Homo sapiens: one gene and its partners. The protein of the gene in region 1 interacts with the protein of each later gene in a pairwise test. Each region holds a gene or a part of one and is shown in the gene's direction. Other genes may lie near its edges.

What was found.
Region 2: the proteins of RSPH1 (region 1) and SH3GLB2 interact in a two-hybrid assay, tested with the Homo sapiens proteins (one large-scale study listed by BioGRID and IntAct).
Region 3: the proteins of RSPH1 (region 1) and ZNF793 interact in a two-hybrid assay, tested with the Homo sapiens proteins (one large-scale study listed by BioGRID and IntAct).
Region 4: the proteins of RSPH1 (region 1) and ZNF662 interact in a two-hybrid assay, tested with the Homo sapiens proteins (one large-scale study listed by BioGRID and IntAct).
Region 5: the proteins of RSPH1 (region 1) and CXXC5 interact in a two-hybrid assay, tested with the Homo sapiens proteins (one large-scale study listed by BioGRID and IntAct).
Region 6: the proteins of RSPH1 (region 1) and BTG3 interact in a two-hybrid assay, tested with the Homo sapiens proteins (one large-scale study listed by BioGRID and IntAct).
Region 7: the proteins of RSPH1 (region 1) and SEPTIN3 interact in a two-hybrid assay, tested with the Homo sapiens proteins (one large-scale study listed by BioGRID and IntAct).

The regions. Positions count from the first base shown.
Region 1 is NC_000021.9:42,475,725-42,479,224, reverse strand, and holds part of RSPH1 (radial spoke head 1 homolog), read left to right. Parts: intron 1-1,780; coding exon 1,781-1,934; intron 1,935-3,177; coding exon 3,178-3,327; intron 3,328-3,500.
Region 2 is NC_000009.12:129,006,536-129,008,933, reverse strand, and holds the end of SH3GLB2 (endophilin-B2), read left to right. Parts: intron 1-142; coding exon 143-250; coding exon of another isoform or gene 251-392; 3' UTR 393-1,898; downstream 1,899-2,398. Other genes in the region: nucleoporin NUP188, read right to left, coding at 2,256-2,398.
Region 3 is NC_000019.10:37,520,439-37,523,938, forward strand, and holds part of ZNF793 (zinc finger protein 793), read left to right. Parts: intron 1-92; exon of another isoform or gene 93-161; intron 162-2,093; 5' UTR 2,094-2,209; intron 2,210-2,971; 5' UTR 2,972-3,001; coding exon 3,002-3,016; intron 3,017-3,500. UniProt on the Homo sapiens protein: May be involved in transcriptional regulation.
Region 4 is NC_000003.12:42,904,683-42,908,941, forward strand, and holds the start of ZNF662 (zinc finger protein 662), read left to right. Parts: upstream 1-1,459; 5' UTR 1,460-1,486; exon of another isoform or gene 1,487-1,669; coding exon of another isoform or gene 1,670-1,759; intron 1,760-3,339; coding exon of another isoform or gene 3,340-3,432; coding exon 3,433-3,466; intron 3,467-4,110; coding exon 4,111-4,227; intron 4,228-4,259. UniProt on the Homo sapiens protein: May be involved in transcriptional regulation.
Region 5 is NC_000005.10:139,647,187-139,651,148, forward strand, and holds the start of CXXC5 (CXXC-type zinc finger protein 5), read left to right. Parts: upstream 1-1,162; 5' UTR 1,163-1,659; intron 1,660-1,764; exon of another isoform or gene 1,765-1,995; intron 1,996-2,148; exon of another isoform or gene 2,149-2,542; intron 2,543-3,802; exon of another isoform or gene 3,803-3,962. UniProt on the Homo sapiens protein: May indirectly participate in activation of the NF-kappa-B and MAPK pathways. Acts as a mediator of BMP4-mediated modulation of canonical Wnt signaling activity in neural stem cells.
Region 6 is NC_000021.9:17,602,902-17,606,401, reverse strand, and holds part of BTG3 (protein BTG3), read left to right. Parts: intron 1-1,404; coding exon 1,405-1,542; intron 1,543-2,125; coding exon of another isoform or gene 2,126-2,257; intron 2,258-3,500. UniProt on the Homo sapiens protein: Overexpression impairs serum-induced cell cycle progression from the G0/G1 to S phase.
Region 7 is NC_000022.11:41,989,943-41,993,442, forward strand, and holds part of SEPTIN3 (neuronal-specific septin-3), read left to right. Parts: intron 1-1,630; coding exon 1,631-1,726; intron 1,727-2,721; coding exon 2,722-2,821; intron 2,822-3,500. UniProt on the Homo sapiens protein: Filament-forming cytoskeletal GTPase. May play a role in cytokinesis.

The DNA.
Region 1 (3,500 bases):
CCCTAGTAAGGGGAATGTATCCCTTCTAGAGTAGGGCTTGCCAAGCTGCAGCCCACGGCTCACTCCCTGTTTCTTTTTAAATTATGGTTTTATATGTACGTTTATAGAGTTTGAAATTTGCCATTTTAAAGCATGCTTTCAGTGGCATTCAGTACGTTCAGTGTTGTGCAGCTGTGAGAATGATGCATTTCTGGAGCTTGTCCGTTATCCCAGACAGAAACTCTGTACCTATTAAGCAACAACTCCCCATTCGACCTCCCCCAGCCCCTGATAGCTTTTAATCTACTTTCTTTCTCTATGAATTTGCCTATTCTAGATGTCGCATATAGATGAATTCATTCTGTATTTGTCCTTTTGTGTCTGGCTTCTTTCATTTAGCACGACGTTTTCAAGGTTCTTGCTTATCCATTTGTCTGTTGATGGACAATTGAGTTGCTTCCACATTTTAGCTATTATGAATAATGCTGCAGTGAACATTGGTGTGCAAGCATCTGGTCGAATCTCTGTTTTCAGTTCCTTTGGTTATATACCGAGGAGTGGAATTGCTGGGTCATATGGTGATGCTGTTTCGCTTTTTGAAGAACTGTCAAATGTTTTCTACAGTAGCTGCAGCATTTTACGTTCCCACCAGCAATGTGAAAGGGTTCCACCTCTTGGTTTTATACATAAAGTGGCGTGCAGTTCCCAAACTAGTGCTGTCAGCTTCACCTGGGAATCTGTTAGGAATGCAGCTTATTGGACGCTATCCCAGACCTGCCGAATCTGAAACTCTGGGGGTGGGGCTAGCAATCTGTCTTTTAATGCTTTCTGGGTGATTCTGATCTAAGTCAAGTTTGAGGACCCTGTCCTGCAGCATTGGTGTCACCCTTCATGGGTGGCCATATTCAAACACTCTGAGACCAAAATAGAGAGTAATTGATTTCCCAGTGACTCAGTGGAAGAGGCAGGTGTCTGCCCCTCTCTGTCATCGGTATTATCACCTATGTGGCAGCGAAGTGTTCCATAGTCATAGTGCTGATGCTCAGATCTTTGGAATTTTGTGATAGTCACAAAACTGAGAAGTAGGCAAATATGCTTGGCAAAATTGGCACATGTTGGCTGCTCACCATTGTCGGAATTGTACATTTTTTATTACAAAGTGTTCCATGTTCAGACTTGATGAACTCTCATTCTGCTTTCCTTGAATTTTATTTTTCCCCATAATCCTTGACACTTGAGCTTTTGCGTTTATGCAAATCCATATCATATGGACATCTTAGGAACTTCTTAGGCCTAAGCCTAAAACAAATGGCTGTTTCTTTTATTATTTATATAAAGAATAATATAAATAATTATGTTTCTACTAAGCTCAATAGACATATAATTATATAATACACGATTTTTTATATTAGAGTTGCAAAATGTGGCCGAACAATTGAAAAGACCACTTACTCCTGGTCACTCAGTTCTGGCCACTTAGTCCTGGCCATGTCTTAGCTATTGCAGGCGACTGCGACATGCTCATCTGAAAGCCTTTTGTGGCACCCATTATAAAGCTCGCTGGCCCAGCATTGCTCTGGAGACTTTATTCCTCACCCTGGCTCTTTCAAGATCCATTCTCAACCCTGAGATTATACCATGGATAGTCAGCAACTGGTCTGATTCCTGAGTGACGTCCTAAAAAGGCTGAAACACAAGCCAAAACCTGTCTTTCAAAACTTGTCCTTCCTCCCTCACTTTTAATATTCCAGACCAAGATGACACAAATGTTGGTAAATGTACATTTTTGCACTTAAAATAGGAAAGAGGAGAAGAGGAAGAGGAGGAAGAATTAGTAACTGTTGTTCCAAAATGGAAAGCTACCCAAATCACTGAATTGGCCCTGTGGACACCAACTCTCCCCAAAAAGCCGACCTCTACGGATGGACCTGGCCAAGACGCTCCAGGAGCTGAGAGTGTGGGGCACCCCCGGGCTGTGGGGTGGAGGGGGCAGAGGGTGTGGGGCACCCCCGGGCTGTGGGACAGAGGGTGTGGGGCATCCCCGGGCTGTGGGGTGGAGGGGTCAGAGGGTGTGGGGCATCCCCGGGCTGTGGGGTGGAGGGGGCAGAGGGTGTGGGGCATCCCCGGGCTGTGGAGTGGAGGGGGCAGAGGGTGTGGGGCATCCCCGGGCTGTGGGGTGGAGGGGGCAGAGGGTGTGGGGCACCCCCGGGCTGTGGGACAGAGGGTGTGGGGCATCCCCCGGGCTGTGGGACAGAGGGTGTGGGGCATCCCCAGGCTGTGGGATGGAGGGTGTGGGCGCCTTTGGGCTGTGGGAGTTGTGGACATCCTGTTTTCAGGCCAGGTGTGGTTGGACTCTCTGAAAATCAGATGCTGGGTCAGTTGAGTGTGCGGGATGTTATTAGGGAGAGCCTTTGGGATTGGAGGACACTCCCGGAGAGCGGAGGGGAGAGGAAAGAAACAGAGTTGATTGGACAGAGGCGGAGGTGTGGCCTCCACAACCTTGCTTCATTCCATGGGGAGCACTGTGGCGTCTCGGGGACCCTTATCCCCTCACCTAGGTCAGTGAGTGAATGTGGGTGTGACCCCGGGCTGGCACTGACAGCAGCTGAGGGGACAGCCCTTCCCTGAAGAAGGGTCCGTGTGGCACCTCCATGTCCAACCCAGTGGTCTTTCTGGAAGTCCTTAATGTGCTGGGGAAAGTTGAAGGTGGCTACCCCGGGTGAGATCCCTTCCATGGCAAGCGGAGGAAAGCCAACTCCGATTGGCCTCCGTGAAAGAATACTCATGCTGCTAAGAATTTCTTGGCTCATGTGACTGGGAAGCTCCGGGACAGCCCCCAGAATGGCCGGGCAGCCTCTGCCCTCTGTCCCAGCTCTCCTCTCTGCTGGCTCCCCTGGCTGGCACTCTCAGGAACCCCAGGGGACTTCTCTTTCTCAAGAGTCTCATCAACACCCTCAGGAATGAAAGTTATCAGACTACCTGCTCCCATCCCCAAGCCACTGACTACAGTGGGGACTGGGCTGCTCCCCTGGCCAGGCCTAGGCTGGGCTGGGTGGATGTTGAGATGGGGAACATGAGGTGCTGCCAGTGGGAGGGGGAGGGTGGGGGCACGGCAGCCCAGGGGACAGCTGCCCTGCACAGGTCTGCAGGCTCCATTTTTCCCAGGAACTCAGGCTTCTGACTTGTGTTTTATCTCAGGTGCAGGAGAACCCGGGGAGGAGGCCCAGGCTCTGCTGGAGGGCTTCGAGGGTGAGATGGACATGAGGCCTGGAGATGAAGATGCAGACGTCCTCCGGGAAGAGAGCCGGGAGTATGACCAGGAGGAGTTCCGCTATGACATGGATGAGGGTGAGGTCCCTGCGCAGGGAAGTGGGGCGAGGGCCCGCACTTAGGGGCCACGAACAGTGGGATTCCCCTTCCCTTCACCAAGGCCTGCCTTCAGCTGGGCCCCAGGGACTCGAGGAAGGCTTAGGGGGCCCCCTGTGAGCGCTCACTGGAGCCATCTCAGAACGTTGCTCCCT
Region 2 (2,398 bases), on another chromosome or scaffold:
AGCAAGTGAGATGAGCGCCAGCCACTGAAGGTGTAGCACATGCCACGGGCCATGGGGAGGTGGCAGCTCTGTCCCCACTTAGTCCTGGGGCCAGTTCCACCCTTGGCCAGGCCATGACCGTCCTCTACTGCCATCTCTGCAGCTCATCACTGTCTACAGCCTGCCTGGCATGGACCCTGACTGGCTCATTGGCGAGAGAGGCAACAAGAAGGGCAAGGTCCCTGTCACCTACTTGGAACTGCTCAGCTAGGCAGGTGCCCCCATCCCCCCCGCATTCTGGCCTAGGCAGGAGAGGATGGGCGCAGCCCTGCCACTTAACTTGTTTGTTGGTGACACAGTTGTTCAGAGTGGGGAGAATTCACCCCATTCTGTCCCTGCCCCTAGTCACCTAGCTGTGAGGGTGCCTGAGGCTGAATGGCTCCACCCCTCCCCCAGCCCTGCTTCTGACCTGTGGCTCTGGAGCCCCTGCCCCTGCCTGCATCCCCGAGCACCCCACCCTCCAGGCTCCACTAAGGAGGGAGGGGCTGTCTGCAGCAGCTGCACTCAGCACCTAGGCCAGGGTGGGGCCGCCGCAGATGGGCTCAGGAAGCCCCAGGTGCACTCAGCGAGAGCCCTGCCTTTCAGTTGCCAAAAGCTGCATCAGGGGAATGCGGCAAGGCACACAGGGCTCTGGCAGCCCCTGGGGACTGGGCGCTGCCCCTGGGAGGGGAGAGCCTGGCCAGGGCTGGTGTTGGGCCCGGAGCAGCATCTTCCGGTGCTATCCTCCCCTCCCACCCCTCACAGCTCAAGCCAAGTCCAGCGGCCGCAGTCTTCACCTCTCCACACTCACTTTTTATCTGGTGTTTTTACTTCTGCCTGCGTTTGCTCTCTAGCCAATAAACCGTCCTTGTGTGCGAGTCACCTGGGCTCCTGTCAGGGCCTGGCCCTGAGGGTGGTAAAGGGAAAGGTAGACTCACCCTCTGCCCCACTCTTCCACAGAGTGAGCAGGGGCCCTGTGGCTGCCCCGGCCCCCAGCTCTCTAGTTGGGAAGAAGTGCAGCCCTCCCTGTCTTCTGCGGGGCCTGTGCCTCTCAGAGGGCAGTGCTGTTCCTGGACATGAAGCCGCACAAGGAACGTTTTATTCCTAAGAAAAAGTTTCCTAAATTTGGATTGTGGAGCGGACTGTAGAATGCGTCTGACAGTTCAGTTCAAGCACAAGAAGTGGGTAGCGGTCAGTGCTGTCTGCAGGTCGGGCGTTTCACCCAGCATGTGCCCCCGTGCCATGGGTTCTCATGCCGTCCTCAGTGTCCACATTTCACAGATGAGATCAGCAAGACAGTCAGCTCCTCAAGGGACCACAGTTGGCAAGTGGCCAAGCAGGGACTGAAGCCCAGGCAGCCTGATTCTAGAAACCCTAAGTGATGTCTGTGTTTTAGATGGCCCCTAGCAGGACCTAGCATTCTGACTTCAGTCCTGAGAAGGCCAACAGCCAGTAGGCCCCACTGTTGGGGCTTCTGAAGAGGGGATCGGGGGATGACGGGGGCACGGGGCTATAAATAGGAAGGCACAGAGCTTCAAGAAAGGCTCACCCAGGGATGAGCTCAGCCCACTGGGCCAATGAAAGCAGGGTCAAGGACAGGACCAGCGCAGGCCAAGGAAGGGAATATCTGACAGCGCCCACCCAGCCAAACCCTCAGCCCAAGGACAGGAATGAGGAGATGCTGGTGAACTAGCCATCCATCAGTACCTGCCTTCCCCCGAGGCTGCAGCCCCACTCCCAGGCGCCTGGCCAGGGGAGTTTTCTAGGTTCTGAGAGCCACGTTGTCATCCCTGGGCTTTGAAGTTAAACATCACACAGCTGTCTATAAACAAGATTTTAATATCTGTATAAATAGACCACAGAATTACCAAAACTGCAAAGACAGAGTGTGGAAAACAGGTTTGAAACCCGTGCATAGAGCCCTCTGCTGGGCTGCCGCCTCTCCCCTGGCCGGCAGTGCTGTGGGGAATGCTGGAAAGGAAGGAAAGTTCCTCTAGGGGGCGTCTGCAGCGTGAGGACCTGAGCACAGAAGACTCGGCTCCCCATGCCTGCTGTTGACCTCTTCATCTAGTATAAAAATAACGTCAGTGGGTGGTGGCTGGAGTCGTGGCTACTCCGGGAGGGGGGTGACAGGAGGTGCCCTCCATTGTATAGGCCCTAGCAGCCAGCAGCACCCCTGCCAGCCAGGGTGCAGTGTAGGCTGGTGGAGAGGGGTAGGTGGGCAGAACAGCACTGCCCTATCTTTGCATATGCCGGACAAACGCCTGCACCAACTGGATCAGAGGCTCCTGACTCTCAGGGCTGGCTTTGGAGAGAGAGGTGGACTTGCCCTGCGGCGAGGGGAGGACACCAGTGGCAGGGGAGCTGGGGGCTCCCCGGC
Region 3 (3,500 bases), on another chromosome or scaffold:
GTCAGAGCAAAGACTCCCACATAAAAGGAAATAGCTTCATCCCTGAGCCAGAAGCTGAGCAAGACCAAACCTGAAGACGTTACTCTTTCCAGGGACTCTCCATGGCTAAATGAAGGGAGGATGGTTGGCCCAAGATCCAGGAAGACAGAGTGAAGGGAGAGGTAGGGAGGCCAGAGTCTCATGGCGGGTGCGATAGGCATGTTCTTTCAGGAGAAGGGGGCATCTTTCTAGCCCATTGCGTTCTGCTATCTTGTGGTATGGGGTGTGGCCCATCTGCTTCTTTATTCTTGCTGGACCTCTCTAGACTTGCTCTCCCGTCATTTTTGGCACCTCACCTGGCCTCTAGGAATGTGATTAGTTCACTCCATCCTGACTCAGAGGCAGAAATGGCCCTGGATTCTCAGAATGGTGGTGGTGGCAGAATTTATGGACCTACTGTATATAATTTTGTTTTGTTTTGTTTTTTGAGACGGAGTTTCACTCTTGCCACCCAGGCTGGAGTACAATGGCAGAATCTCAGAATTACAGACATGCACCACCATGCCCGGCTAATTTTTTTTTTTTTTCGAGATGAAGTCTCACTCTGTCGCCCAGGCTGGAGTGCAGTGGCACATTCTCGGCTCACTGCAAGCTCCACCTCCTGGGTTCACGCCATTCTCCTGCCTCAGCCTCCCAAATAGCTGGGACTACAGGTGTGTGCCACCATGCCCGGCTTATTTTTTTTATTTTTAGTAGACACGGGGTTTCACCGTGTTAGCCAGAATGGTCTCAATCTCCTGACCTTGTGATCTGCCCGCCTCGGCCTCCCAAAGTGCTGGGATTACAGGCGTGAGCCACTGTGCCTGTCCTGATTTTTGTATTTTTAGTAGAGATGGAGTTTCACCATGTTGACCAGGCTGGTCTCGAACTTACGACCTCAAGCGATCCACCCACCTCGGCCTCCCAAAGTGCTGGGATTACAGGCATGAATCACCATGCATGGTCAATTCTCTTTTTTTTTTTTTTTTTTTTTTTGAGACAGAGTTTCGCTCTTGTTGCCCAGGCTGGAGTGCAATGGCGCGATCTCTGCTCACTGCAGCCTCCACCTCCCAGGTTCAAGGGATCAAGGGATTCTCCTGCCTCAGCCTCCTGAGTAGCTGGGATTATAGGCACGCTTCACCACGCCTGGCTAATTTTGTACTTTTAGTAGAGATGGGGTTTCACTATGTTGGTCAGGCTTGTCTCGAACTCCCAACCTCAGGTGATACACCTGCCTTGGCCTCCCAAAGTGCTGGGATTATAGGCGTGAGCCACCGCACCCAGCCTTTTGTTTTTAACTAAACATTTTATTTGGAAATTTTTTTCCAAAAAAAAGCAAGAATATTTCTGTGGTCTCCTATGTATTCCTTACCTAGATTCATCTATATAAAGCCATGTTTGCATGTCCTCTCTTTCTATATACAAATATATATGTATATAGATAATTATGTTATATCATAAATATATCATTCCTATTCTTTCTTTAACTACTTAAGACTAACTTGCAGACATGATGCTCCTTTACCCATAAGTACTTCAGGGTATATTTTCTAAGAATAAGAACTTTTTTTTATGTAACCAGTAGTTTTCAAAACCAGGCATTTGACACTGATTACAAAGTCAGTGTTATAATGATTTAATAATCATGATAACTAGATTAATGTAGACCATAGACTAGATTAATCCAGTCTACAATCAGATGTCAACTAATACTGTCACTTTATAGCAACTTTTCTTTCTTGCTTTTTCTTATTTTTTGAGACCAAGTCTCGCTCTTGTCACCCAGGTTGGAGTGCAATGGCGCGATCTTGGCTCACTGCAACCTCTGCCTCCTGGGTTCAAATGATTCTCCTGCCTCAGCCTCCTGAGTAGCTGGGATTACAGGTGCCTGCCAGCACACCCGGCAAATTTTTGTATTTTTAGTAGAGATGGGGTTTCACCATGTTGGCCAGGCTGGTCTCGAACTCCTGACCTCAGGCGATGTACCCACCTCGGCCTCCCAAAGTGCTGGGATTACAGGGGTGAGCCACTGTGCCCGGGCCTATAGCAACTTTTCTTTTCTTTTTCCATTCCAGGATCTAATCCAGGATCATATGCTGCCTTTAGGTGACACATCCCTTTAGTCTCCTTTAATCAGGAGCAGTTTCTCAGTGTTCATCTTCCATGAAGTCGACATTTTTGAAGAGTATAGGTAGGTTATTTTGTATATTGTAACTCAGTATGGTTTTGTCTGATGTCTCCTCATTGATTAGGTTCAGGTATGCATTTGGGGTGTGAACACCACAGAAGGGATGTTGTACCCTTCACAGTGCATTATATCAGGAGGCACATGATGTCTTATATCTCATTACTGGTCACGTTAACTGATCACTTGACTAAGTGATACTGCCAAGTTTTTCCAAGGCAAAGTTACTTCTTTTCCTTTTATAATCATTAAATGTCTTGGGGTGTGGGGCATTTAGATACTATGGCAACCATGCTTTATGGTCTATGCTTTATGACCTATATAATATTTCAAAGTATTTGAAACAAATAAGAGATAAAGGGTATTTATTTGTTTGTTTATTTATTTATTTAATTTTTGAGACAGGGTCTTACTCTGTCACCTAGGCCAGATTGCAGTAGTGGGATCATGGCTCACTGCAGCTTTGACCTCCTAGGCTCAAGTGATCCCCCCACCTCAGCCTCCTGGGTAGCTGGGACTATAGGTGTGCAACACCATACCTGGCTAATTTTTTATCTTTTTTTGTAGAGACGGGGCTTTGCCATATTGCCCAGGCTGGTCCCTAACTCCTGGCCTCAAATAAGGTGTAAGCCACCACACCCAGCTAAAAGCATGGATTTTTGTACAATATTTACAAAGGGAATTTGCAATTTCCAAGACAGGCCTAGCTCTTTACACTCTGTTCTCTGTTCTCTCTTTCTCCATCTTCTTCCCCCCACATGTCTACAGGTGTCAGATCTTTTTCAAGAACAGCAGAAAATGATCGAATACCAGGTAAGTATCACATTAAGTAGCCCAGTTTTCCTTCCTGGGGAAACTGTCCTAGAGGAAAAAAAGGGTGTGCATTGTAAGTATGTACAGTTTGTACATACAGGCTGGGTTCTCAGGGAAGCTGACTCATAGATGGAGATTTTTCTCACAGGAGGTTGATTAGGCAGGCTCTTAGAACACCTGTAAGACAGTGAGGGAAGCTGGATTGGGCTGAGGGAATTGTTGAACAGAGGCCTTAGTGGATCTTATCCTCTGGAGCTGGGATGGCCTTCAGCATTGTTGTGAATGGAGGCAAGGAGGCTTTTATATTCTGAAATCAACTAATCATTGATTGTAGGCTGCCCCGAGGAGGGTAGATATCCTTGGATGGTGCAGTACCCTTTGGCCAAGGATAATTCTCAGAAAGGTTTTAAGCCGGCCGCTAGGGGTAGCTCATGCCTGTAATCCCGGCACTTTGGGAGGCCAAGGCAGTTGCATAACCTGAGGT
Region 4 (4,259 bases), on another chromosome or scaffold:
CCCCCTACCAATTACATAAGATTCCCTGCTTCTAGTTAGCCCGCCTGTAGTTTCCCCATGCCAGCAACTTCCAATAAGGGAATACCTGAAGCCATTCCTTTTTTCCACTGTGAAGCTTTCCCCACTCTTCTGCCTGACTTTCAGTCTGCTGAATGCAAGTGATGAGGGCTGACTCTCTTGTCATATATAGCAAGCTCTGAATAATAGTCTTTGTTCTCATTTGAATAATCTTTATTTTCACACTTCTTAAAAAATTTAATTTCCTGGCATGTTGCATAATGTTAGGTAAGCCATTTTCTCTCTTTGGGCCTTACTTTCTTCAACTGAAAAACTGGTTCAACATTTATTCATTCTTTTATTCCGTAAGCCAAAAATAAAATTCAAAGCCCTCTGACCATATGAATGGATCTCTCCTCTTGGCTAAGGGCATTCCAAAGTTAACGTGAAAAACTGGTTCAGGCCATAATGGGAAGGAGGAGTTGGACATGGCTCATTATGCTCCCCTACCTTTTGAAATTCAGGACCAGCTGACCAGCATTAACATCAACACAGACCTTAAGACTGATAGAACAGCCTCTTTAAGTCTCACAGACTATCCGGTAGTGTGATAATGATGAGAAACATTTGCAGTCTATTCTCTGAAGCCTGCTACAGGCTCCATCTGCATGATAAAACTTTGGTCTCCACAAGCCCTTATCTTAACTGAGACATCCCTTTCTATTGATTCTAAGTCTTTATACAATAACTTAACTCTTTCAACCAATTGCCACTCAGAAAATCTTTGAATCCACCTATGTCCTGAAAGCCTCCTCTTCCAGTTGTCCCACCTTTCCATACCGAACCAACGTACATCTTACATGTATTAATTGATGTCTTATGTCTTCCTAAAATGTGTAAAACCAAGTTGTAGCCCGACCACGTTGGGCACATGTTCTCAGGATCTCCTGGGGCTGTGGCACGGGCCATGGTCACTCATATTTGGCTCAGGATAAATCCCTTCAAATATTTTACAGTTTGACTTTTCGTGGACAATTCTACAAATATTCCTTGGCAGTTAAAGAAATAACTCCCCAGGAGGTGCTAGACATCGGGCGCATGTTAGAGGCACAAAGATGAGAATGTTAAAAGACATAAAATACAGGTCTGCTCTGGGAATGCAAAAACTGGTAAAAGGAGAGATAAAAGAGCAGGTGCAGTCTAGTGAAGTACCCGCTACCTCCTATCAGCAAATATCTGTCCACCTAGGGTGCAGCGAGCTGGAGAGGAAGGGGTGGCCTAGAGCGCAGGGGAAGGATTCCTCCCCAGCCGCCTGCACCCCTACCCCGGTAGCGGTCCCTGGGATCGTCCGTGTCTCCAGGAGAACCGGACCGCTCTCCCCTCCCTCCCCGAGCGAGAAAGGAGGACCACAGAGATGCGGCGCCCTCCGCCGTCCTAGAGCAACCGGAGCGGCCCGAGCCCCGGCCTCCCGGATGCTGGGGCCTGGCGGGTGTGGAGCACGGGGAGTCGGGCGTGGGGCGGGCAGGGAGTGGAGTCGGGGTCTTACTCCGGTGGCTGCAGGGCGCAGGGTAGCCGTGTCAGGCCTGCCCAGGTGCAGAGCGCTCTTCCGCGACCCCAACAGCCTCTGGTCCGGTCTGGCGCGCCCTCGCTTTCCCAGAGGGCGACCTGGGCTATGGCGGCCGTGGCGCTGGCGAGCGGGACACGCCTCGGCCTTGTCCTCGAGCTGCTCCCGGGACAGCCCGCGCTGCCCCGGGCGCGCCGGGTGAGTGCGGGGCCGGAGCCTGGAAGCAGTCTTGGCCCTGCCCTGGGTTCTAGGCCCGGAGACGGGGTGGTGCGGCGGCTGGGAAATGGGGGTACAACCCAGAGTGAGGGGCCTCGAGGGACAGGCAGCACAGCGGAGTCGACACCCCTGGACCTGAGCCTCAAGGAGAGCAGACGTGCAGCGGCACGGGGTTGAGCCGACTGCTGGGGCAGAGCGCACAGAGTGCTGTCGGGGGCGATGAATGGCCAGAATTTCAGAGCTGCCTTTACAGAGCTGGTTATGTTTGAGCTGGGTATTAGGTTGAAAAGGAATTTGCAATGCAGGAGCAGGAAGGAAGAACTGGATATTCAGGCAAGAGTAGCCGCAGGTGCAAGGACACAGAACAGGGTGAGGAAAGAGTTTGGTTTCCCAATGCAATGGTGAGAGGATCGGAGATGAGAGTGGTGGTGGCTGATGATCCTGGCCAGGAAAGCTGGGTCTGTGAGTAGTGAATGGAATTGTCTGTAGTGCAGAGGAATGTGGACTCTATTAGGCAGACAAAGTTGAGCCAGCCAAAGCCTTGGAGCCCTGGAGTGCTGGATAAATAGCTGTGGAGACTTTCTAGTGCGCAAGGACTGAAGTGCAGTGGACCAGAATGGGCTCCTCCACAGTGTGGAGACTGAGACCCTGAAGGAGGCAGTGGCTGAGAATTACGGGAAGTCCCAACGGCTGGAGGTCAGCAGTATTTGTTTCTTAAGAGGATGAGAGAAAGAAGGTGCAGGAGCTGAGACTCCTAGAGATATAGAAAATGGGGACATGGAGATTGGGACGTGGGTAAGCAAGTGAGGTGGGATCTTTGTGAGAGTGTTGCGGGTGGTGGGGGTGCAGGGAGTAAAGTCACAACGAGGATCTGCCCTGTTGAGTACAGTGTTCAGAGCAACCTGAATGTTCTGAGGAGCCCTAGCTGCCTCTGTGGCTGGTGGCAGTGACTGGGGAGGACAAAGGAGGAAGAGTCCTATACAGGGGCAGCAGGGATGGCAGGAATGGGGACGGAAGGCAGTGTGGCATAACAGGCAAGAGCCAGAGTCAAACAGGCCTGGGTTCTGTCTCAGTTCTGGAACTTTGGGGGAAGTTAATCCCTCCGAGTCTCAGTTTCCTCTTCTAAAAAACGGATCTGATAGTAGGCTATGAGACATAACAAAGAATATATGTCAAGTGCTTGGCACAGGCTTAATAAATGATAGTTGTTATCAAGGGTGGGTGACCTCTGAAGGAGGACACATTGTGGAGAGAGGATGGGACCTAGAGCACAGATGTGGTTTGGGGTATAAGGATGAAACAAGAAAACTTTTGCAGACTCATGAAAAAGAGGAGAAAATGTTTGCTGAAATAAAGATGAAGAGACATGAGAAAATTGATGGCTGATGCCTTGTCTCTTTGTACATAGGAGGCAAAAATCTTCTGCTGATAGAGTTCCTGTAGACATTCAGAATCCAGAATCCCCACAGGCACCCCCACAGTACCTTTTGATGCCCTGTCTCCCCTTCCTCTTGGCCTGGTCCTGGGGTTGTCCTAGGGCATTTAAACACATGTTGTTTCAGGAGTCAGTGACCTTCGAGGATGTGGCCGTCTACTTCTCTGAGAACGAATGGATCGGCCTGGGCCCTGCTCAGAGAGCCCTGTACAGGGATGTGATGCTGGAGAATTATGGGGCTGTGGCTTCCCTGGGTAAGGGTCTCTCCCTTTGGGCCCTGCCTCCACCCTTGAGAGTTTGCTGGCTCCTTTTTTCTCAAAGGCTCAGGAGTTGTTGATAACCCTCAGCTCAATGGCAGCTTCAGGCTCTTGGATTTTTAATGACCTAACCTCAGCAGCCGTTGGAAAGTAGGAAGTCCTGGTATCAGTTTGGGCCTTATACAGGACTTCCTTGCTCCAGAGTGAGAGGTGCCAAACCCCTACCCTTGTGTTGTGGGTATAGTGAGAAGAGAGCAAATTCATGGTGCTCCACTGAGCCTTCAGTTCCCTCCCCTCTCGGTTTGCAAGATCCAGCCTAATTCCAAGCATCCTCATGAGGATGTCTGAACTTGAGAGCTCTAAGAGGGAGAGGACAGGTAAGAATTGAGGACTCAATTCCTCAATGAGTGAAATCATCCATTTGCTGACTCAAACAGTTACTGAGTCGTCTGTCAACTTCCTGACCTTTGTAAGTCTCCTGGCCCCTCTCTTGTCCTTTCCCCTGGAATTCCTTTTCTTGTTCTTCCTAGTTATTTCCGTTTTTTTCCCCTCCTACCCCTGAAGACACTGGCCTGGGAGGAGCCTTGGGATTACTGTGTGCCATGCCACTCACCTGCCTGTCCCATTTCTTTCCTTTTAAGCAGCATTTCCATTTCCCAAACCGGCTCTGATTTCCCAGCTGGAGCGAGGGGAAACACCCTGGTGCTCGGTTCCTCGGGGAGCTCTGGATGGAGAGGCCCCAAGGGGCATCTCCTCAGGTGAGTGAGGGCACACGTGCCGGTCATCTGAC
Region 5 (3,962 bases), on another chromosome or scaffold:
ACAGTTAACTCCCTGTTATCTGGGCCCCAATCGATCTCAGGCTGTAACGTTTAACCCTAGGCTGACTTCCCCAACCGCCCTCCCCCTCTCCCTCCCCTGCTTGGGTCTGGGGACTGCGTTTTCTTCGCCTCGCAGAGGAAGGTCGGCCTTGCACAAATCCGCCCCCACGAATCCCAAAGAATTGGAGAAAACTTCCACTTTGGGATTATATGCAGTTGGGATTATATGAGCCCGGGGCTTGCACCATGGGTACGTGAGGTGAAGACATCTGCAGCAGCAGGATTAATTAGCCTAAGATGGGCATATGGAGGCCACTGATGGAGTGAAAGCGGGATATGCGGGCCCAACTCTGTCCCCACTGGGCGCCTACTCTGGCAAGGCTGAGTTTTCCTTCTGTCTTTCAATCAGTACCTATTGAGCGCTGCTGTTCCAAGCATTGTTTCGGGTTTTGAGTGCGTAGGCCATGGTCTCAGGGCACCAAATGTACGTAGTCGTTTTAGCCCCGGGACTCAAGAGTTGAGGCTGATGCCTGCCTGAGAGATAAAATATCCTTTCTCGGATCAGTTTCCTCACCTGAGAAATGGGAACGGGAATCTCCGCCCCTTTTCTCCCGGGGCCCTAGTGCCCACTGAATCCATTAAGGAGCTCTTGGAAGGGTGGGGTCTTGGAACACGCGTCTACCTCCCAGGACCCTCGACTAGGAATCTCTGGCCCGCCGCGCACCTGAGCTGGGGGGCGCGGCCAAATTCTCCCTCCCGGTCCTCGAAGCTTCTGGCCCCGCTCTAGAGGGGGCAGAAAGATAGCAGATTTCCCCGGAGGTGCGTCTCTAAACCCAGACCGCCTCACCAAAGCGGGGAGGTCGTCCTTTTTTTTTTTTTTTTGTAAAGTTGCGGGAAATAGGCGAAGACGGGGCGCGCAAGGGAGCTGAGCCTGGGTGGACCGCGTCAGGGCGCGGGGAGCTCGAGGCGCAGCGGCTGCAGCTCCGGCCTCAGAGCCCGCGGCGTCCAAGTGGCCCGAGCTGCGCTGGGAGGGAGGCGGCGGGAGGAGGGAGGGGAGCCGAGGTGGAGGGGGTTGGGGGGAGGAGGGAGCGGCGAGTCCGGTCCGGGTTTTGCCGGCAGCCCCCGGGCAGCGTTCATAGCTCCTGCCCGGGCGGGCGCGCGGCGGCGGCGGCAGAGGCGGCTGAGCCTGAGCGGGGATGTAGAGGCGGCGGCAGCAGAGGCGGCACTGGCGGCAAGAGCAGACGCCCGAGCCGAGCGAGAAGAGCGGCAGAGCCTTATCCCCTGAAGCCGGGCCCCGCGTCCCAGCCCTGCCCAGCCCGCGCCCAGCCATGCGCGCCGCCTGCTGAGTCCGGGCGCCGCACGCTGAGCCCTCCGCCCGCGAGCCGCGCTCAGCTCGGGGGTGATTAGTTGCTTTTTGTTGTTTTTTAATTTGGGCCGCGGGGAGGGGGAGGAGGGGCAGGTGCTGCAGGCTCCCCCCCCTCCCCGCCTCGGGCCAGCCGCGGCGGCGCGACTCGGGCTCCGGACCCGGGCACTGCTGGCGGCTGGAGCGGAGCGCACCGCGGCGGTGGTGCCCAGAGCGGAGCGCAGCTCCCTGCCCCGCCCCTCCCCCTCGGCCTCGCGGCGACGGCGGCGGTGGCGGCTTGGACGACTCGGAGAGCCGGTAGGTGTCGGGCCACGGCCCTCCCTCGACCCCCCCCGGAGGCCGGCCCCCTCCCCTTCCCCGCCTACCTCCCTCTCCTCCCCCGGGGTTCGGTGCGCGGCCGGGGCCGGAGTTCGCTGCAAGTCGGCGGAAAGTTTGGCTGCGCGGGTTCCCCCGAAGTTCAGGTGCGGAGAGCCGGGGACGGGGAAGGAGGGGTCCGTATTTGGGAGGGGCGGGGGGCGCCCGCACCGTAAGCCGCGGAGCCCCGGAGCCTGGGAGACCTAGCGCCGGTGATCGCTTGGTGGCCGCTGCTATACCCAAGCCTCCCTAAGCCGCAGTATGCTCGGTCGCAGATCACTGAGTTCAGACAAAAAGAGGGGTTTTAGGGTCTGGGACGGCGGCTTGGGCGCCGTGGAGTGGGGCTGGGACGCTCCTTGCGGGGTGCCGCCCCCCTCCCCCCCACTACTCCAGTTCGCGGGCGCTGGGGCAGCGGGCGCCCGGGGTCCTCACCTCTTGGCGTTGGGCGGGCGCTCAGCCTGCGGGGGCGGCTGCTTGTAGATCTCTGGCGCGCACTCCCCCCATCAGACCCCGCTCGCAGCCCTGTGTTGAGGGGCGACGTTAACTGCTCTGGGCGCCCTCGACCACGCGTGGCTGAGCCTCCCCCACCACTTGGAAGAAGCGGCGGCTACTTCTGCATTTTTCCTCCGGCTCCTCGCCCCCGCTGCCCGCGGGGTGCCCGGCGGGCTGATGAAGTTTGACCTTTTTTTTCCATCAAAGTATCTCCCCCACCACCACGGTGCCCCGCGGCCCCTCCCTCCCTCCTTTCCCAGCCTTGGGGAGTCTTTTGAGCTGTCTCCCGAGCCCCGCGTGGGCCACGCAGCGTGCAGAGCCTGGGAGGGAGAATGGGGGTGTTCCTCTAGCTGCGGAACTGTGGGGGGCGTACGTCCCCGGCGCCTGCCACGCTGCACTGGCCCCAAATTTACCCATGAAGTTCGGCCCGACCCCCCTCCCCTTCGCTTCCCCGGAGCGGAGTGAGGGGCTGAACCGCCGCGAGAGGAATGTGTTAATTTTCTGGCTGGGGGAAGTTGTCCTCGCCCGGAATGGGCTGCTTTCCGGCGGGGAGCGCGGGGTGCGCCTGGCTTTGTTTATTTGTAGGATCGACGGAAAGCGAGTGACCCCGGTTTTTAAATGGGGGGCCACCTTCGGGACCTGTCAGAAGAGCTGAAACGCCCAAAGTGGGAGCAAGATCTCTTTTTGTTCTTTTTTCCCCCCCGGGAATCTGAAGGGGTGCGCGGAGTTGGGCTGGTGCCTCGGGCTGCAAGGAAGCACCAGTAAATTTGGGGGGTTCTGTAGTGACTCATTCGGAAAGACCCGCTCCCTGAAGTCTCCCGCGACGGGGGTCTGAAGGTTTGGCAACCGCGCCCTCCTTTGCCCCCTGGACTTTGGGTGGTCTGAGAGTCGCGCCTTCGGATGGGGGGGGAGCTAAGGGGGTGACCAGCGGACCAGACTCCTGACCCCCACCTTTCCTCGCGCGGCGGGCGCTGTTTGGAGCCCTTGGATTTGTGGTGGGCCCTGTCCCCCCCACCCCCGCATTTTCTTTGGAAGCGTTGGGGAGGGGGCGTGTGTGAGATCGCTCGGCCCTCGCCCCCGCCGGAGCCGCCCCAGGGCCGCCGGCAAACAGAGTCCCTTTCAAGTTTTCCGCTGGGGCCGCCTGGCGGGGGCTGCGAGCGCGGTCGCTGCGGACTTGTTTGGAGCGCGATTTGAACGCCCGGCTCCACCTCAGCTGCCCCAGGCCGCGGGGTGGGGGGCGTCTGTCCTTTGCAGTTGGGAGTATTTAAATTAGACGTCTTGGGGGACCTACTGGCCTAAGCTTCACCTGATCCCCCTCCTGAAAGATGCCCGTGCCTTGGTTTCCAACCGCCACTAGAAAACCGGGAACTGAGACCGAAGCCCCCTCTAAACCCCTTTCTGAGAGCCGTGCGGGGAAACTCAGGCCGGCGGGCTACCTACCCGTAACTGCGTATTGTTGATTTAGCAGTTTCCCTAGATGAGAGTCAGGCTGGAGCTTGGGGGGGTGGGGAGTGGCCCGCTCTGCAGCTGTCACCCCCCTCCCAGAACGGAAATTGTCCTCTCCTTGGGGAGGAGGGAGAGGGGGTGATGGTTTGATTTTTGCCCTGGGAAGAGATGGGAACAGCTGAAGGAGATTGGCCTCCGAGTTCCCAGCCAGCCCCCGGAACTTGGGTAGAACCCCCCTACCCCTCATCCTCGCAGTAGCTGGGTCTCTCCCAGGGACGCCCCTAGTCAGCCTTGGCCTCCCTCTCCAT
Region 6 (3,500 bases), about 25 Mb from region 1:
CTTTGCCTTTGTTATATTGTTAATGGTGACGCTAAGATAGGTACGTATATACAGGGTTGAGTATTAAGGAAATAACTTGCTCTTTGGAGTCTAGTGGCCTGGATTTGAACCCTAGATCCATCACTTAGTAGCTGTGTAATGTTGGGAAGTTACTCAAACTCTCTCTGCCTCCTTTTTTCTTTATGCTGAGGAAAAAAGTATCTAACTCACAGGATGATCATGAGAATTAAGAGTTAATACATGCAAAGCATTTAGGAAATTGTCCATTGCATAATAAATTTTTTAAAATGCTTATTATTGTTAATATTATTATGTAGAAACACTTATTCCTATTACCTGTTGAGAACTTTTTCATTTTTTAAATAGAAATTAAAACCAACTAATAATTTAACTTTTACAAAAACTTTAAATAGCACATTAGTCTTTATATCATTGTATTTTACAGCGTAATTACTATTCATCAATTAACTTGTATTTCCATGTTTTATAGTTACAGGTCTGAGGAAGAGGTACAGTGACTTAACTAGGCTTACCTGATAAATACTAGGATTAGTGCTGAAATCCAAGTTCTCTTGATTGATTCTTGATTGTAGGCAGTAAATACTTTTCCTTCATAGGCCCTATTTCCCTACTTAATCAGAATGCTTATCATTTAACAGAATGCATATTTTTTATTTATTAAACATTCCATTAGGTAGATGTCGTATAATAGGTTAAAAAAAGATGGGACAGAGGCTTTATTGGTTTAGAAATTTTCCTCACTTAATTTTGACAACTATTTAAATAAAAGTGCTTGGGTAAATAGAAGTTAAATGAAATAAGCCAATAACATGTTAGTTAGGTATTTTAATCATAAGTATATGATATGAATGAATCTGTGTCCTTCACTTATCCTGTATTTATAGAACAATTATAGGTAAAGCAAGGGTGTCCTCTTACCACTTTACTATCTGAGATATAAAAGCAAGTTAATGACAGATCAGAATTTGTCGTAAGCATTTCCAAATACCATCTGAAACATTAGATGAGGCCTTTTGTTAGAGATTTTTTTGTATAGGAACTTGGCCTATAGAAACTTTTACCTTCAGAGTTCTAAAATTTCGTGCAACTTTCATACTCCGTGCTCATTTAATGTACATGGGTGGTCAAGTCTCTGGGTAGACTGAGGTAGACCCAGTACTAGTGATTTCCTTGGGCTCACATAGGTGCCATCTTTTTTTCAGGCTGCCTCTGTGCCTGTAGTTCACATTTATTATCTGTTTAGGATAGATATGCTCCTAGGTTCTCTACCAGGGTATTTTTTTATTACTATTTTATTACTCACCTTGGCAAGTATGAATAGATATTACGGCGTTTATGATTAAATTCATTTAAATCCATTAACGTAACTCCACTTTGTTGTAGATGTATTCGTGTCAATAAATTTCAGAGAGTTGATCCTGATGTCCTGAAAGCCTGTGAAAACAGCTGCATCTTGTATAGTGACCTGGGCTTGCCAAAGGAGCTCACTCTCTGGGTGGACCCATGTGAGGTGTGCTGTCGGTGAGTTCTCAAGTTTAGAGGCTGAACTGATGACCATGCTGGAACTAATTTTATGACATTCTGTCATGTACGGCCTGCCTGTGTATCTTTATGGCCAGGAGCTGGTGGTTTAACTCTCTCAGATGTAAATTTTATGAAATACTTTTCTGGAGGTGATGTTGAAGGACTAGTTAGATTTCTGCTTTATAGCCGAAAAAAGAAACTGATTAGGCGGGGGTTTTCTAGTAGTGCTTTGCCAAGAAGCTTATTGTAGACCAAGAAGTAGACACCTAGATTCCGCTAGGTGTCTATTATCTTTAATTGGTGGTGCACTTGTCTGTCTTCAAATTAAGAAGCTAATCCCAAATAATACTGGATAACCACTTTTGGTTTGTTTCTGTTTCTGTTTATTCTCCCTCTCTCCTCTTTTTTTTTGGGACGGAGTTTCACTCTTGTTGCCCAGGCTGGAGCGCAATGGTGCATTCTTGGCTGTCTGCAACCTCTGCCTGCCGGGTTCAAGTGATTCTCCTGCCTCAGCCTCCTGAGTAGCTGGAATTACAGGCGCCCACCACTGTGCCCGGCTAATTTTTTTTTATATTTGTAGTAGAGATGGGGTTTCACCATGTTGGCCAGACTGCTCTCAAACTCCTGACCTCGTGATCCGCCCGCCTTGGCCTCCCAAAGCGCTGGATTACAGGCGTGAGCCACTGCGCCCGGCCTCCTCCTTTTTGATTATGTAAGTGACTGAGTGATACTTCGTGGTTTTATTTTTATAATGGAAGTTATTTTTCACATCTCCTAATGAATAGAGTTGTGAAAGATCAGTGCTAGGTATGAAATCTTTTTGAACTCCACTTGCTCAAAAACCATTATTTGTGGACCAGGCACTCTCAGTTGTAGGGTTTTCAAAAACGAAAGCAACATTCTGCTTTTAGGTAATTCAGTTTGAAATTGAGAAGAAAAGTAAGCAAATTACATTGTTATCTGATTTATGTTAGAAATGTGTACAAAATGCAGTGGTAGGTTGCACAAAGTAGAAAGTTACTGCATCTGGTGAGGAGTCAGGAGACTACTGAGTAGGTGATACTTGAGCTGGGAGGTGAAGGATGAGCCATGGTTGACCAGGTGACAAGGTGGGAAGGATGTTCTAACTAGCAGGAAGAAGATGAACAGAGGCATGGAATTCCTGCAAGAATTTTCCTGTGGCTCTGCCTTTAGGATGTTTCTATTTGGTTTTGAGGTACAATTCACCTGACCACCTGGCCTCTTTATTGATTGTAGTAAAGTTGCTTTTTGAAGGAACCCTAACTATGTACTCCTAAGGTGGTCGCAGACTGACCTGATTCCAGCAATGAAGGTGGAGGTGAAGACAGGAGAGATGAATTACATGATTATTCTTCCATTAAATTTTGTCAGGACCACCGCTTGAGGTTACTACCTGATTTGCCAGTGGTTGGTGTAAGTTTATTGCTTTTGGAAACCAGATGTAGGTGGTAGAGGTTTGTGATAAACATTCTCCAATACTTCTTTCTCGGGTAGAAAAGGAGCAAGCTATCTCAAATTTAGGTCTGAGAAAATAAACATTTTTAGATTCTGGGACTAATTAAGGACCTGCTTTAGGCTAGTTTCAGACTTGGAAAACTTTGGCCACTGAACCTGTGCAGAAGACCTCCATTTATAAGAAATAGCTGTCAAAAAGCTACTATATTGAATTGTTTACTTTTTAATTTGACCTGCACTTAGATCCTAGTTGGCTCCTATTTAACACACAGTTAAGTTAGTTGTGTGGTTTCTTAACCCATGAAATGTGAGAAGCAGCATTTTAAAGAGGGTTGATGAGTCAGACGCTACCAAAAAATGTCATGTGGTCTGACATAGAGGCAAAAATGAAAAAGCTAAAAAATCAGCACGATTATGTTATCACACAATCAAATAGTTTACGTTCAATATAATGATCCTAAACCATCAGGGGAAAGTTT
Region 7 (3,500 bases), on another chromosome or scaffold:
CATGTATCACTGTGTACATAAGAAATCACTCCTCCAACGTTAGCCTAATTGAAGGGCTAGACTAATTAGTGAGTCAACTGGCCACTAGTCCTCACTGGCATCTTCTCTTTGTTTTTTTTTTGGAGTCTCTCTCTGTCGCCCAGGCTGGAGTGCAGTGGCGTGATCTCGGCTCACTGCAAGCTCCGCCTTACGGGTTCACGCCATTCTCCTGCCTCAGCCTCCTGAGTAGCTAGGACTACAGGCACCCACCACCACGCCTGGCTAATTTTGTTTTTCTCTTTTTAGTAGAGATGGGGTTTCACTGTGTTAGCCAGGATGGTCTCGGCTAGTCTTGATCTCCTGACCTCGTGATCTGCCCGCCTCGGCCTCCCAAAGTGCTGGGATTACAGGCGTGAGCCACCGTGCCCAGCCCTCACTGGCATGTTCTATAAGCTCAGCCCTGTGCTGGATGTACAGGGTTGGGGAGGGGCGATTTGAGAGAAATGAAAAGACAATTGCTGCCTTTAAGAAATTTACAATCCAGTTGGGCGTGGTGGCTCATGCCTGTAATCCCAGCACTTTGGGAGGCAGAGGCGGGTGAATCACGAAGTCAGGAGATCAAGACCATCCTGGCTAACACGGTGAAACCCCGTCTCTACTAAAAATACAAAAAAATTAGCCGGGTGTGGTGGCGGGTGCCTGTAGTCCCAGCTACTCAGGAGGCTGAGGCAGGAGAATGGCATGAACCCGAGAGGCGGCGCTTGCAGTGAGCTGAGATCGTGCTACTGTACTCCAGCCTGGGCGACAAAGTGACACTCTATCTCAAAAAAAAAAAAAAAAAAAAAAAGAAACTTACAATTGGCTGGGGGCGGTGGCTCACGCCTGTAATCCCAGCACTTTGGGAGGCCAAGGCGGGTGGATCACCTAAGGTCAGGAGTTCGAGACCAGCCTGGCCAACATGGTGAAACCCCATTTCTACTAAAAATACAAAAATTAGCTGGGCGTGGTGGCATATGCCTGTAAGCCCAGCTACTAGGGAGGCTGAGGCAGGAGAATCACTGGAACCCGGGAGGTGGAGGTTGTAGTGAGCCAAGATCGCACCACGGTACTCCAGCCTGGGCAACAGAGCAAGACTCGGTCTCAAACAAACAAACAAACAACAAACAAACAAAACTTATAATCAAATAGAAAATGAAGAGGTCCTGGATGGTTTCCTGGAGAAGGCAAGACTTAAGTCGACCTTGAAAGAGGGCAAACAGTCTCGGAGTAGGGGGAGCCTCACCTTTCTTCCTTCCAATCAGGAATATAACATGCAGGGGTCTGAGCACTCCCCAGTGGGCTCACCTGTGCTGCTTGTGTAAATCCCAGTCTCGCGGACCCTGAGATGAGCAAGCTGGTTGCGAGGCGCCTGGGACCTGAAGTTGCACCTCCTGGCCTCTTCCTCCTCTCAGGCTAGGTTGTAATTGTATAGCTGGGGCTTGCATTTATTCACCATCTTCCTGCTGCTCAGGGTCTCAGAGTTCAGAGATGACTGTGGATTATCCAAGGCTGGATTTGGCTCTCTGACCTCAGCTCACGCACACAGGTGCACACACCCCTCTTTTCCATTACCCTGACACTTGACTACCTTGTTTCTTCTCCTCGCCTCTAGGTTCGCAAGGAGCTTGAAGTAAATGGCATTGAATTCTACCCCCAGAAGGAATTTGATGAGGATTTGGAGGATAAGACGGAGAATGACAAAATCAGGGTGGGTGCCTGGGGCACTGCTCCTCCACTGATGCCCCCTTGCGACCTCTGGGATGTGTATTGTGCACGTCCTCTGTCTGTCTTTTCCCTTTCTGTACTCCCCCCAACCTTGCCTGACCCAGACCAGAAGTGACATAGGGGGATGGGGAGGACTATGGCCCTGGACTGTGAACCCACAGAAGGGCTCCCTGTACCCAGAAAGCCTTCTATCCCCAGACCACATAAAAGCCTCCTTTTCCCCAACAAGGTCTGGCAAAAACAGTATTTGGGGTGATGGGAGGGGCAGCAGGCAGGAAGAGCATCAGGCTGGGGTCCAGGAGGATCTATGCTGTGGTCAGACCCTGCCTTAGTTTCCCCTCTATGAAATGCAGGGGTTAGACTGAGTGGCTTATAGGCTTCCCCCGCTAGAATAACTTAAAAAAATTAAATTGGCTGGGCGTGGTGACTCATGCCTGTATCCCAGCACTTTGGGAGGCCTAGGTGGGAGAATCGCTTGAGCCCAGGAGTTCACGACCAGCCTGGGCAACATGGCAAAAACTTATCTCTACAAAACCTGCAAAAATTAGCCAGGCATGGTGGCGCATGCCTGTAATCCCAGCTACTCGGGAGGCTGAGGCAGGAGAATTGCTTGAAGCCAGGAGGTGGAGGTTGCAGTGAGTTGAAATTGTGCCATTGCACTCCAGCCTGGGCAACAAGAGCGAACTCTGTCTCAAAAAAGAAAGTACAAAGCGCTCTGCAGCTGAAGGAGAGCTGATTCCTGAGGTTAACCAGTGAGGCAGTGGTACAATTGGGACTAGACCCAGGACTCTTCAATCTCAGTCGGGTGCTCTTTTCAAGAGACTGAGCCTTGCCCTTGCCATCAGTAGTATCTCTGAATGAGCATCAGAAGTGTGTGGTTCAAGGCTAGAGGACCATATGCCATCCTGCTCCTGAAAGTCCAGGTTGTTGGAGGATGACGGTGCACATGTGTCTGGTTTGTGTTTCTGCCCCGTGCAGCAGGAGAGCATGCCTTTTGCTGTGGTGGGAAGTGACAAGGAGTACCAAGTGAATGGCAAGAGGGTCCTCGGCCGAAAAACTCCATGGGGGATCATCGAAGGTAATTCACTGCATCTTCTGGAAGAACTGGTTGCTGATCAGTTATCCAGTCACCATTTATTAAGCATCTATAGGTCAAGGCACTGTCTCAGGACATATGAAATGAATGCCAGCCAGATTCTGCCCATAAGGAGCTTACAGTCTCATTGAGAAGACGATGCTCACAGGCAGGAGTAACAAGAGACTGATTTAGCACCTGACTGGGTGGCACTGACTTAGCGCATCAAAGGAGTTCAGAACATGGAGAGATTAGTAAGGCCTGGAAAAACTGGAGAAAGGTTTTCATAGGAAGGGGGATGTGATCTGACAAACTGCCGGAGGGTTGTTCAGGTGTTGCCATTTCCATTTTATTATGAATGGATGTGACCCTGGGCGGGTCTTGATGATTCTGAAAGTGGTCAAAGAATCACTTTAATGATTTCATTCAATATGATAACCCTATGAAGGGAGGAGAGCGGGTGCTCCTGTTCTCAGAGTATAAGCTACCAAAGCACCGGAAGCTCAGGTTAAAAGCCTTGTCCAAAGCACATAACTTGTTAGTGGTGAAACTTGATTTCAGACTCAGATTTTTTTTTTTTTTGAGACGGAGTCTCACTCTGTCATCCAGGCTGGAGTGCAGTGGCGCAATCTCAGCTCACTGCAACCTCTGCCTCCCAGGTTCAAGTAATTCTTCTGCCTTA